Linked DNA regions of Homo sapiens. The protein of the gene in region 1 interacts with the protein of each later gene in a pairwise test. Each region holds a gene or a part of one and is shown in the gene's direction. Other genes may lie near its edges. The genes, in order: ADIPOR1, DPH3 and NAA20.

Region 1 (3,660 bases):
TGCCTGTAGTCCCGGTTACTAAGACTTGGGAAGCTAAGGTGGGAGGATCGCTTGAGTCTGGCACATTGAGGCTACAGTGAGCTGAGATCACACCACTGCACTCCAGCCTGAATGACAGAGCAAGACCCTTTTAAAAAAAAAAAAAGACTTCTGTTGGGGAAGAGCTACAAAGGAAGTCAGACTGTTTTTCCACTTCAGAGTCTGGGACGCTTGGCATCGAGTAGGAGAGCTGAGGCCCTATATACTGTAGTTCGGTGATTTCAAACATGTGCCTTTGCTTTGATTCATATTTCTCCAACAAAGCTGTGAAATTATCCTGCCTAAGAGACAGTAGATAGGGGAAAAATGGCTGTATTCTTTATCTATACTGCTAGACTGGTCTTGCTTTAGGACAAGAATCAAGCTAGGTATGGATAGAGGCTACCCATAGACTCTCTAAAGGCCCAGGAACTAAACTCTTAGAAACTTTGTGTCTTTGCCTCCAGGAAAGGTGTGCCGTAGCCTGGAAAACTTGGGAATTGGTTCACAATATAAATGTCTCCAAAAACTATAAGTGAAATAACTCTCCAGCTAACTGGCTGGTGATTAAAAATCAATCTTTTCCCCATGTTTGGCACAGGATTATCTTATTTATAGGAGTACAAACAACCTCCCTGCTCCACAGCTTTACTCTCTAATATCCTAGGTTTACCCAGTTGGAAAGCTTAGTGGTAAAGGTTTATTAGCTTGAGTTGAAGAAATCTCATCAAAAATGCACTCAGTCGAGTTTGGCTCAAATATAATTTGCAGTATTGGGTGTGGCAAGCTTGAGGGGAAAGGCATTTCCTCTAAAATACGTAAGGACATAGAAAGCTGGCAGAAGGTTGGCTCACCTAGGATCGTTCTAACACCTTAGGGGTTTGTTCTGATTTTACACCATAGACTAAAACACACTTGTAATTCTCCATTGTTTGTGAGTGATCCACCCCATAGAAGTGGTATTTTCAGATCCTAGTATTATTTGCTCTTCTTTCTTGCCAGACGTCCGATCCCTATCTCTCCCTTTCCTGTCTCTGTGTTACTACAGTTTAGAAGACCAAACTGGACAATGGACTTTGCTCACTATGATGACATGATCTCCATTGACCTCCATTGTATGTACTTTAATGCATGATGATATATTTTGTATGATGAGTTGTAGCTGATGGCTGGTTTGTGAGTTAACTGGGGTCTCAGGTTTTGGTGACTCTGGGTCTAGAAGATGTAGAGAGGTGGTATAGGAGCTAGTGATAGAGGAGCTAGAGGGAATCGGAAGAACTAATAGTAAATGATTTGGACTGAAAAAGGAAAAGACTTTGATGATAGCCAGAAGACTTGAGGGCATAAAAACTTTTCAGATCAAATGATGAAATTAGTAAGAATGCCAATCTGGATTCTGCACATGATCTTTGGACCCTAATTGCCCAACTTAAATTTTCTCTATATTATTCTCATTGCCTCTAGTAAAATAGTTACATAGCACTCAAAGTTACTAAATTTAGTGTGTGACCATTCTAGTTGAGGGGTTCTCTCCCTCCACTGCCCTCCTGGAGCAATCAAATTGTATCACTTATTTTTGTGCATATCACAAACTACCTATGTTATCTGGCTCTTTGAAAACAATACTATAACTTGTTCAACTTGTATTTTGCACAGTGTCTTGTATTTTGCACAGTGTCTTAGAATGCCTTAGGGTGCTAGTCCTAAATACACTTGCTAAATATTCAATGAATGTGTTGACTTACTCTGGGGAAAGGGATAAGAGAAGCCACCACAAGCACAAGAAAATGCACATAAGCCCTTATCTAAGTGGCTAGAAGCTAAGTCATATGCTGGCAAGCTGGAATCTGCCCCATTCATTCATTCATTTTGAAATGGGTTCTAACTAAAATAAAGTATATTTATTATTTTATGATCCATGTATTGCATCTCAGAACCAGAATTTTGTTTTGTTTTGTTTTGTTTCTGCCCTGGTAGCCTGATCTAAGTTACTTCCAACAGTAACTTAGTAAGTAACAAGCTAAGTGTGCCCCTCTTTTCAGATTTATCTAAGATGCCCAAAAATATTTATGTTTTTTGCTTGTGATATAAAGTTGTTTTTTGGTTTTTTTTTTTTTGCTTGCGATATAAAGTATTTTTTAGTAAAGCTGCTGATTCAGTAGTACTTCACTTTGAGGAAATATGTTTTGAGGTCAGCCTATTGAGAAAGATTTCCTTGTGTCCCTCTCACACGGGTTGCCCATCCTCGAGGTTTTCATAGGCTTCCAGCTTCCTGTTCTCCTTAGCTCAATTGTTCACTATGACTGTGTGCTGGCATCTCGTCAGAGTCTTGCACATTTAAAGGAAGAGGAACTGTCTATGTGTTGACACCATATAAAGGTCTGCTGTATAGCAAGTTATTGTTTTTGTCTCTCTTGGACTAGATTGCCGGTTGCTTTCAACTGTGCTTGTGGGTTGAGCATAGCATGACTCATGACTGTTTAGAAGCTTGAGGATTGCCCTTACCTGATGTGTTAGTAAGTGTTCTCCAGAAAGCACCAATAGGATACATACATATGGATAGAGATGGGATTTATTCGGGGAATTGGCTCATGAGATTATGGAGGCTAAGTCCCACACTATGCCATCTCAAGCTAGACAATGAGGAAAGTCCATAACTGGTTCAGTTTAAGGCTGAAGGCCTGAGAACCCAAGGGGCTATTGGTGCACGTCCCGGAATCCCAAGGCAGGAGAACCTGGAGTTTCTGATGTCCAAGGGCAGGAAAAGAAGGGTGTCCCAGCTCCAGGAGGGAAGGAGGGGGAGAGACAGAGAGAGTTAGGGAGTCAGAGAAAGAGATTTATAATCCCTGAGAAGGAATTGTGATTACTCTTAGATAAAAAAGAACTGACACAAGATATCAAAGATATTTGTATATAGTGAATAGCCATGGATGATATAGTGTCTCCCTCAGGAGCAAAGTTATGTTTACTGCCCAATATAAAAGATTGGGGCTCCCTAAGCTTAAGTTTCCTCTCCCGGAATGCAACCCACTCCATGTGCAGTTGTTACCTGGCCCTCCCTGCATTGCAATGTGGTTATTTGGGTTTGGGTGGGGCTTGGGTAACCAATGCAAGAAAATGCTAATATTCTGGCTACTGCTATTGCTATAACTAATAAAGTCCTTTGTATGGGGGTAGAGGTGGGGAGAGAACTAATAATTTACAGCATAGTGGAAATCTTTGGAAACTTTCTCCCTCTTTCCCTCTTTTTTTATTTGCATTTCCCTGAGGCCTGTTTAAAGACTACTGTGAAAATCCAACCCAGGAAAACCTAAAGTGTCTGAGATTTTTCCTAGAAAATGGAATTCTGGGTTTTTCTGATTTTGTGTGTGCCTGTCTCTAGTTTCTGAAATACTCATTTGAGTAGGGCTTAGATTATGGGTTGTGGTGGTTGAAACAAGTTATTGTGGAGCTGGTTATTAGGTATGTGTGTGGCAAAGGGTAAATTGGGGCTGCCTCCTTGTCTTCACCTTCCTGCTTCCAGGTAAGTTCTTGCTTGCTTGCAGGACAGATTGTGATGAAAGCTTGTTATCCCAGGGTTGAACTCAGGCTATAATCCTGTAATAGAATTAGTAGACTTCGCAGAGAAATTAACCACTAGGC
Region 2 (2,851 bases), on another chromosome or scaffold:
CCATGGAGTTTGAACTAGGTAAAGAGAACATGAAGGGAGTGAGGGGCAGTGAAAGGGTGGTAGGATGAATATGGTGGAGGTCCAGAGGGGTTGGAATATGGCATCCAGGGTGGATAAATGACAGCAACAGAGAAGAATAGCAAGGCGGTAGTCTCAAGACATAAGATTCTAAACTGATGGGTTTTAGACAGGAAAGGAGAATGGAGGCAAAAAGGAGGAACTAGCCCCACTTCCAATCCCTCTGGTACTAGGACTCTGAGAACACAGAGCCTCCACTAGATGGGCTTGTAGGGGAAACTGTCCTTAAGAATATGACTTCATCTCAACCTCAGCCCTGTTGACATTTTAGGCCTGATAATTCTTTGTTGTTCAGAGATACCCCGTGCATTATAGGATGTCTAGCAGGATCCCTGGCCTCTACCTACTAGATGCCAATAGCAATCCTCAGTTGTTTCAATTCAAACTGTTTCCAGATATTACCAGTGCTCTTGGGGATAAAAGGACATTTTGAGAAAGAGGTTGAGAATATGAAGCATTGTGCTAACAATGGACCATGAATTCCAAAGGGCACAGTGAAAGGGTTCCACATATTGGGCAACAGAGTAGCAGGGACAGAGTAGGGGCTGATCCTTCGGGAATCAGATTGCTGGAGGTGAGGGATAACCTTGGAAGCAGAGATTTTTGGTGGTAGCTGACATAAGCCAGGATAAAAGACCAGAGATTGAACTTCATTTACAAAGTAGCTAACATAGCAGATTATCCATGTTGGGAACCACATAAAGACCTGTCCCTTTTAGTTAGAAGAAGTAATTACTTTGAAGAGGACTGGTATTTGAATGACCAAATATTAAAGTGGAGAAGTTTTAGTGTAAGTAGTAATTAATACAGAAATTTAAAATATGTGGCATGTCTTTATGTGATTTCTGAGAAGTGGTTGCTCTGAACTGAAGATAGGGATGTTTGTTTATAAGGTGCTTTGTATTAAATAATGAATTCAGATCAAAAAACTGATACATGTTTAAGATTCTACTTCTGGTGCTGTCATTGGCTCTTTGAACAAGGATGAAATGATAATAGCAAATGAAAAACAATTAACAGCGCTGGATTGATGCTGTAACAAAATGAAGGTTTAATATTAATGTATTTGTGACCGGAAATTCATTGGTTAATGTCATTTCTCACTCTGTCTTAGGATCAGTTTGTGTGTGGAGAAACAGTCCCAGCCCCTTCAGCCAACAAAGAATTAGTTAAATGCTGAAGAAGCCTTCAGGAATCCAAATCCTGAACATTTGGAATGAGCCCAGATAGAAATATCGAATGCAAAGCTACTGGCTTCACAGAGACAACCATTTATGATTTGCTGTTCTGTAAGAGTGTGGATTCTTTCTATCAACTGCTGATATCATCTTCAGGAAGCAAGTCCATAACATGACATATCTGGATTTTGTGCTTAGAACCTTAAATTGGAAGCATTCTTAATTATGCATCTAAATTTAAAAGAAGATAATTTCAAAACAGTGCTTTCTTTCCCTTGGTTTCATCATTTTCATATCTTAAACCAAATTACTTCGGTATCTGACAACAGCATCATCTACCTCAGTCATTAGGATTTCTTAATAAAAAAGAGATTGTATTTTTGACTTGGTTATTAAGATTATTAAAATTAGCCCTTCCTTTGAAATATGACATCAGCTTTGCTGTTCTAAATTTAAAATTAGTTGCTTCATCAGTACCACACTTCCAGTTTCTATACCAAGCCAGTCTCCTCAGTTTTCCCATTAGAATGGACATGTTCTGTTCAGCGTGTCATTTCTGTAATGCTTCATGCAGAGAGTTTGGTCATAGTATTAAAGAGAAAATACAGTGAGGTCACAATGTCTCCAGAGCTAAAAGTTAGTGAACAAGAAAGAAAGTCCAAAATGAAGTGATGAAAGAATGAGGACTTTTCTTATATTCTGCATATTCCTTGGAAGTCAGGACAAGATGAAAAGAAAAACATCCAAAAGAAGTGAAATTGGTGACAGAATGAGAGGAGCAAAGCATACCAGTGTAGTAAGTGGAATGTTTGAATGACTTTGCCAGGTCAGAGCAAGTAATATTTCTGTATCTGAGTTTTTGTTTGTGTTTTGATAAGGCTAATGAAATTGCATTCCAGGTAGGGGTTAACGTCAAATTTCCATGGCTGGTAGCTGTGCTTTTGGCATATCACAGTGTTGTGTCACTACTACAAGGTAAAGCATCTACAGCGGAGAATGAGCTTGAAAATGAGAGACCTATTGTGAATAAATATGCCCATGAGAGCATATTTAATAAGCCTCTATAACATGCAGCCAAACCAGACATTCACTCCTGCAGAGAAATGTTGCCCTGGAGAAAAAGAAATATATAAAGATAGGCTATCACCCTTCTTTTGCTGCAGTACTAAGCATAGCAAGAAATTAGAATCATTTACATTGGAAATTTGAAAATTCCCTTTATATACACAACTTTACTGTGTATAAATAAAAAATATTTATTAATGCAGTGATGTCCGTCAGGTTGTTTTAGGAATGGCTTCTGCAATTAGAAAAATAGCTTGCTAGAATGTAAATGTTCTGTTACTGGTAAATGTACTGCACACATTCATTGGACGTTAAAACAAGTGAGTAGCCTTTTTTACCTGCCAGCAGCATGGCTGTGTGCAGCCACTAGGCTGAGACAATAAATTACCAAAAATTATAATGTACCGAGCTGAAAATGCTCAGTACATTATGTGGCATATTCTGGATGTGATGAGAAATCTCATTGCCATTTGGGACACTGACATCCCAGAAGTAATCCACAACTGCTTTGCAAAAGCAAAGTGACTGCT
Region 3 (3,557 bases), on another chromosome or scaffold:
CACAGATATGATTATATAAATATAAAATCCATAAGAATATAAATATTTAGAATTAATAAAAGGCAAAGTTGTTGGATATAAAGTCAGTATAAAAATCAATTGTATTTACATATGAGAGGAAACAAAACTTACTTATTTTGCACAGATATGATTATACAAATATAAAATCCACAAGAATCTAGAAATAAATGTTTAGAATTAATAAAAGGTAGGCAAGGTTGTTGGATAGAAAGTCAGTATAAAAATCAATTGTATTTATATATATATAAACAGTAAAATTTAGAAAAAGATGCCATAGCATGAAAAAACATTAAGTACTTAAGAATCTAGCAAGTGCTATGCAAGACCTCTCTGACATTTAAAAAACTTTTTTGAGAGATATTAAAGTAGCCCTGATAAGTGGAGCGATAAACTATCACTGGATTAGAGGATACAGTAAACAGGTAATCGACCGCAGTTCCAATGTAATTGCAGTCAAAATCCCAAGCATTTTTTATAGTACTTGTTAAGCTGACTCTGAAACATACAGAGGAACAGAAAGAGCAAAAAAGAGACAAGATATTCTTGAACAACAACAAAAATGGGTGATGTGCCCCTCCAGGTATCAGACTGTAAAGAGTGAGACTATATCTTAGTGCTGTAGTTATCTAGACCAGTGTTACAGAATTTGAGAAACAGACCCAAGAATATATGGACTTTAACATACCACAGAAGAGGCATTGCACATCAATAGTATGAAGATAGACTTTTCAGTAAAGGTGGTTGGACAATTGGATGTCCCTATGGGAAAAAAAAATTTCCCAGATTACCATTATTCCATACACAAATCAACTCCAGATTTATTAAAAACCTAGATGTGAAACCAAAACTAAGAAGTCTTTTGAATATAATATGGCAGAGTGTCTCTGTGGCCTCAGTGTAGAACTTTTTAAAAAGGCCATAAAAAGGCTAAGGAAAGGATTCATATATTCAGCTTCACTGAAGTGAAGTAACTTTTTATCAAAAGATAACATAAGGATAATGACAAGACAAACCACAAATTGGAAAAAGATACTTGCAGACATTACACAGTATTGAATATTCACAATACATAGAGAACTGTAGCGGGGGAAAAATTGTATGAAAGATTTAAGTACTATACAGAAGGAGAAATCTAAATGGCCAACCAACAGAAATATATTCAGCATTGTTAGTAATTGGAAATACAAATTAAAATCTGAGATATAGTTACACTGTAAGATTGGCAAAAATAAAAACATGTGATGCACCAAGCCTTGTTGCTGTGGAATGGAGGCTTACTCACTTCTGTGCAAGAGTAAGTTGGTACAAGCCAGTTGGAAAAACAGTTTGGTATTAACTAATGAAGATGTGCCCTGTGACACAACAGTGAGACTCCTAGCTATAGACCTTACGTGAGACACTCAACAGAAGTATTCACAGGAGCATCGTTTGTATAGTAAAAGCCAGAAACGTATCAACAGGACCGTGAATGACTTGTGCACAAGCCCAGCCACTCTTGAAGCTGACTCTTACAATGTTAGTCGACTGAGAGAAGCAAAAGACAAAAGAATATATGATTCCATGTATATAAACTTCATAAACAGGAGAAACTGTAATAGGTGGTGAATTTGTAGAACAAATGCCTTGAGTTTATCTTTTAAGAAAACGTGTTGCTTTTGAAATACTAGCATGCAAACATAAAGTCATGTTCTTACACTGCAAAGTAATTGTCATAAATCCTAAGTAATACAAATTTCTATTACCATGTAATCAGCTACAAGGTCCTATTACTACCATTCTGAGTAGTAGTCAAAGCAAGGTAAAAACACGTTTTAAAAAAAATATGTATCTATTACTTTCTAGGGTTTCTCACATTCTAACATTTTCCTTTTTTGTTTTTCTTTTAAAGAAAGGGTGGATTTTTTGTGGATCTCTTTGTAAGAGTATCTAACCAAGTTGCAGTTAACATGTACAAGCAGTTGGGCTACAGTGTATATAGGACGGTCATAGAGTACTATTCGGCCAGCAACGGGGAGCCTGATGAGGACGCTTATGGTAAGCTCCCTTCCATGGCAGTATCCCCAAGAAGTCGAAACAGTTACATTCTTTCTACAGATTGTAGTATTTGATTATTTTAATAAATGTAGAATATTTGACTTTAAAATTTAAATTTCCCTCAACCTACCTTTATCAACCTATTAGTAGTAGTAATTAACTTACCTATTAACTAACCAATGGTTAATTTCTGTACCTTACTGTTTCACTCTGTTACATACATATTATTTTGCTAACAAGAAAACGTGTATTGTGAGCTGAATACTGGGTGAGGTCTGGTTAGCATCTGGTACACTTGGCAATTGGGAGACATTTATAAATACATTTTGCTTAGAATATGGTGAAGTGGGGGTAGGGATAAAACCTCTTATGGGAACTTTACCTATACACTTTACATTTGATATAATACATTTTTTGGGTGTTTATATTAAACTTTGCTTCTTTACAGATATGAGGAAAGCACTTTCCAGGGATACTGAGAAGAAATCCATCATACCATTACCTCATCCTGTGAGGCCTGAAGACATTGAATAACCCTGGGCAGTGGTTCTTAGGCAGATACTCTAGATGCTTTATGGACAATATTATTTTCATTGGATGATTCTGGAGCTCTATTAGGAGAAAAGTAATCATTTTAGGTCTTAAAGACTTCAAGAAAATACAGGTTATCAATTTATTTTAAATCTCATTGTTTCCAGTTAGCAATATCATACCTATTAAAGCTGTTCATTGTAACAAAATTCAATCAAAAAGGCAGCTAGGTCAGAAGGAAACATACCACTCTCATGGTTCATAGTATTCACTGTATGTATGCTAGGGAAAAGACTTGCTCCAGTCTCCTCCTCAGTTCTGTGCCTGAGAACCACTGCTGCATATATTTGTTTTTAAATTTTGTATTGAACTGTTAATTGAAGCTTTAAAAGCATATATGAAATGTATAAATCTAAGATGTATAATACATTATTGACTCTATGAATGTTTTCTGAAGTTTGTTAGTCATTTGTAAAACTAAATCAGATTGTAATCCCAGTACTTTGGGAGGCCAAGGCAGGCTGATTGCTTGAGGTCAGGAGTTTGAGACCAGCCTGGCCAAAATCTATACTAAAAAAAATACAAAAATTAGCTGGGCATCCCAGCTATGCAGAAGCTGAAGCACAAGAATTGCTTGAACCCTGGAGGTGGAGGTTGCAGTGAGCTGAGATCGTCCCACTGCACTCCAGCCCGGGCAACAGAGTAAGACCCTGCCTCAAGAAAAAAAAAAAAAAAAAAAATCAGGATTGTGAAAGGTCATCATCATTTAAGATACGTTTAATTAAATTGTGACTTCCATACGTAGTATTTTAAAAATGCACACTTGAAGCAATCACTGTCCAGCATACTTAAGAAGCTCCCTTCTTATCGTGTAGTAAATTCTTCCCAGTCACCTGCGTTCATACCATTATACTGTTTGTTTGTTAGTCCTAGATCTTTTCTCCTCTTCACAATGCTTTGCTTAAATCCTG

The links.
Region 2: the proteins of ADIPOR1 (region 1) and DPH3 interact in a two-hybrid assay, tested with the Homo sapiens proteins (one large-scale study listed by BioGRID and IntAct).
Region 3: the proteins of ADIPOR1 (region 1) and NAA20 interact in a two-hybrid assay, tested with the Homo sapiens proteins (one large-scale study listed by BioGRID and IntAct).

The regions. Positions count from the first base shown.
Region 1 is NC_000001.11:202,951,714-202,955,373, reverse strand, and holds part of ADIPOR1 (adiponectin receptor protein 1), read left to right. Parts: intron 1-1,066; exon of another isoform or gene 1,067-1,133; intron 1,134-3,660. UniProt on the Homo sapiens protein: Receptor for ADIPOQ, an essential hormone secreted by adipocytes that regulates glucose and lipid metabolism. Required for normal glucose and fat homeostasis and for maintaining a normal body weight.
Region 2 is NC_000003.12:16,259,171-16,262,021, reverse strand, and holds part of DPH3 (diphthamide biosynthesis protein 3), read left to right. Parts: intron 1-1,192; coding exon 1,193-1,258; 3' UTR 1,259-2,851.
Region 3 is NC_000020.11:20,030,599-20,034,155, forward strand, and holds the end of NAA20 (N-alpha-acetyltransferase 20), read left to right. Parts: intron 1-1,909; coding exon 1,910-2,055; intron 2,056-2,503; coding exon 2,504-2,589; 3' UTR 2,590-3,057; downstream 3,058-3,557. UniProt on the Homo sapiens protein: Catalytic subunit of the NatB complex which catalyzes acetylation of the N-terminal methionine residues of peptides beginning with Met-Asp, Met-Glu, Met-Asn and Met-Gln. Proteins with cell cycle functions are overrepresented in the pool of NatB substrates.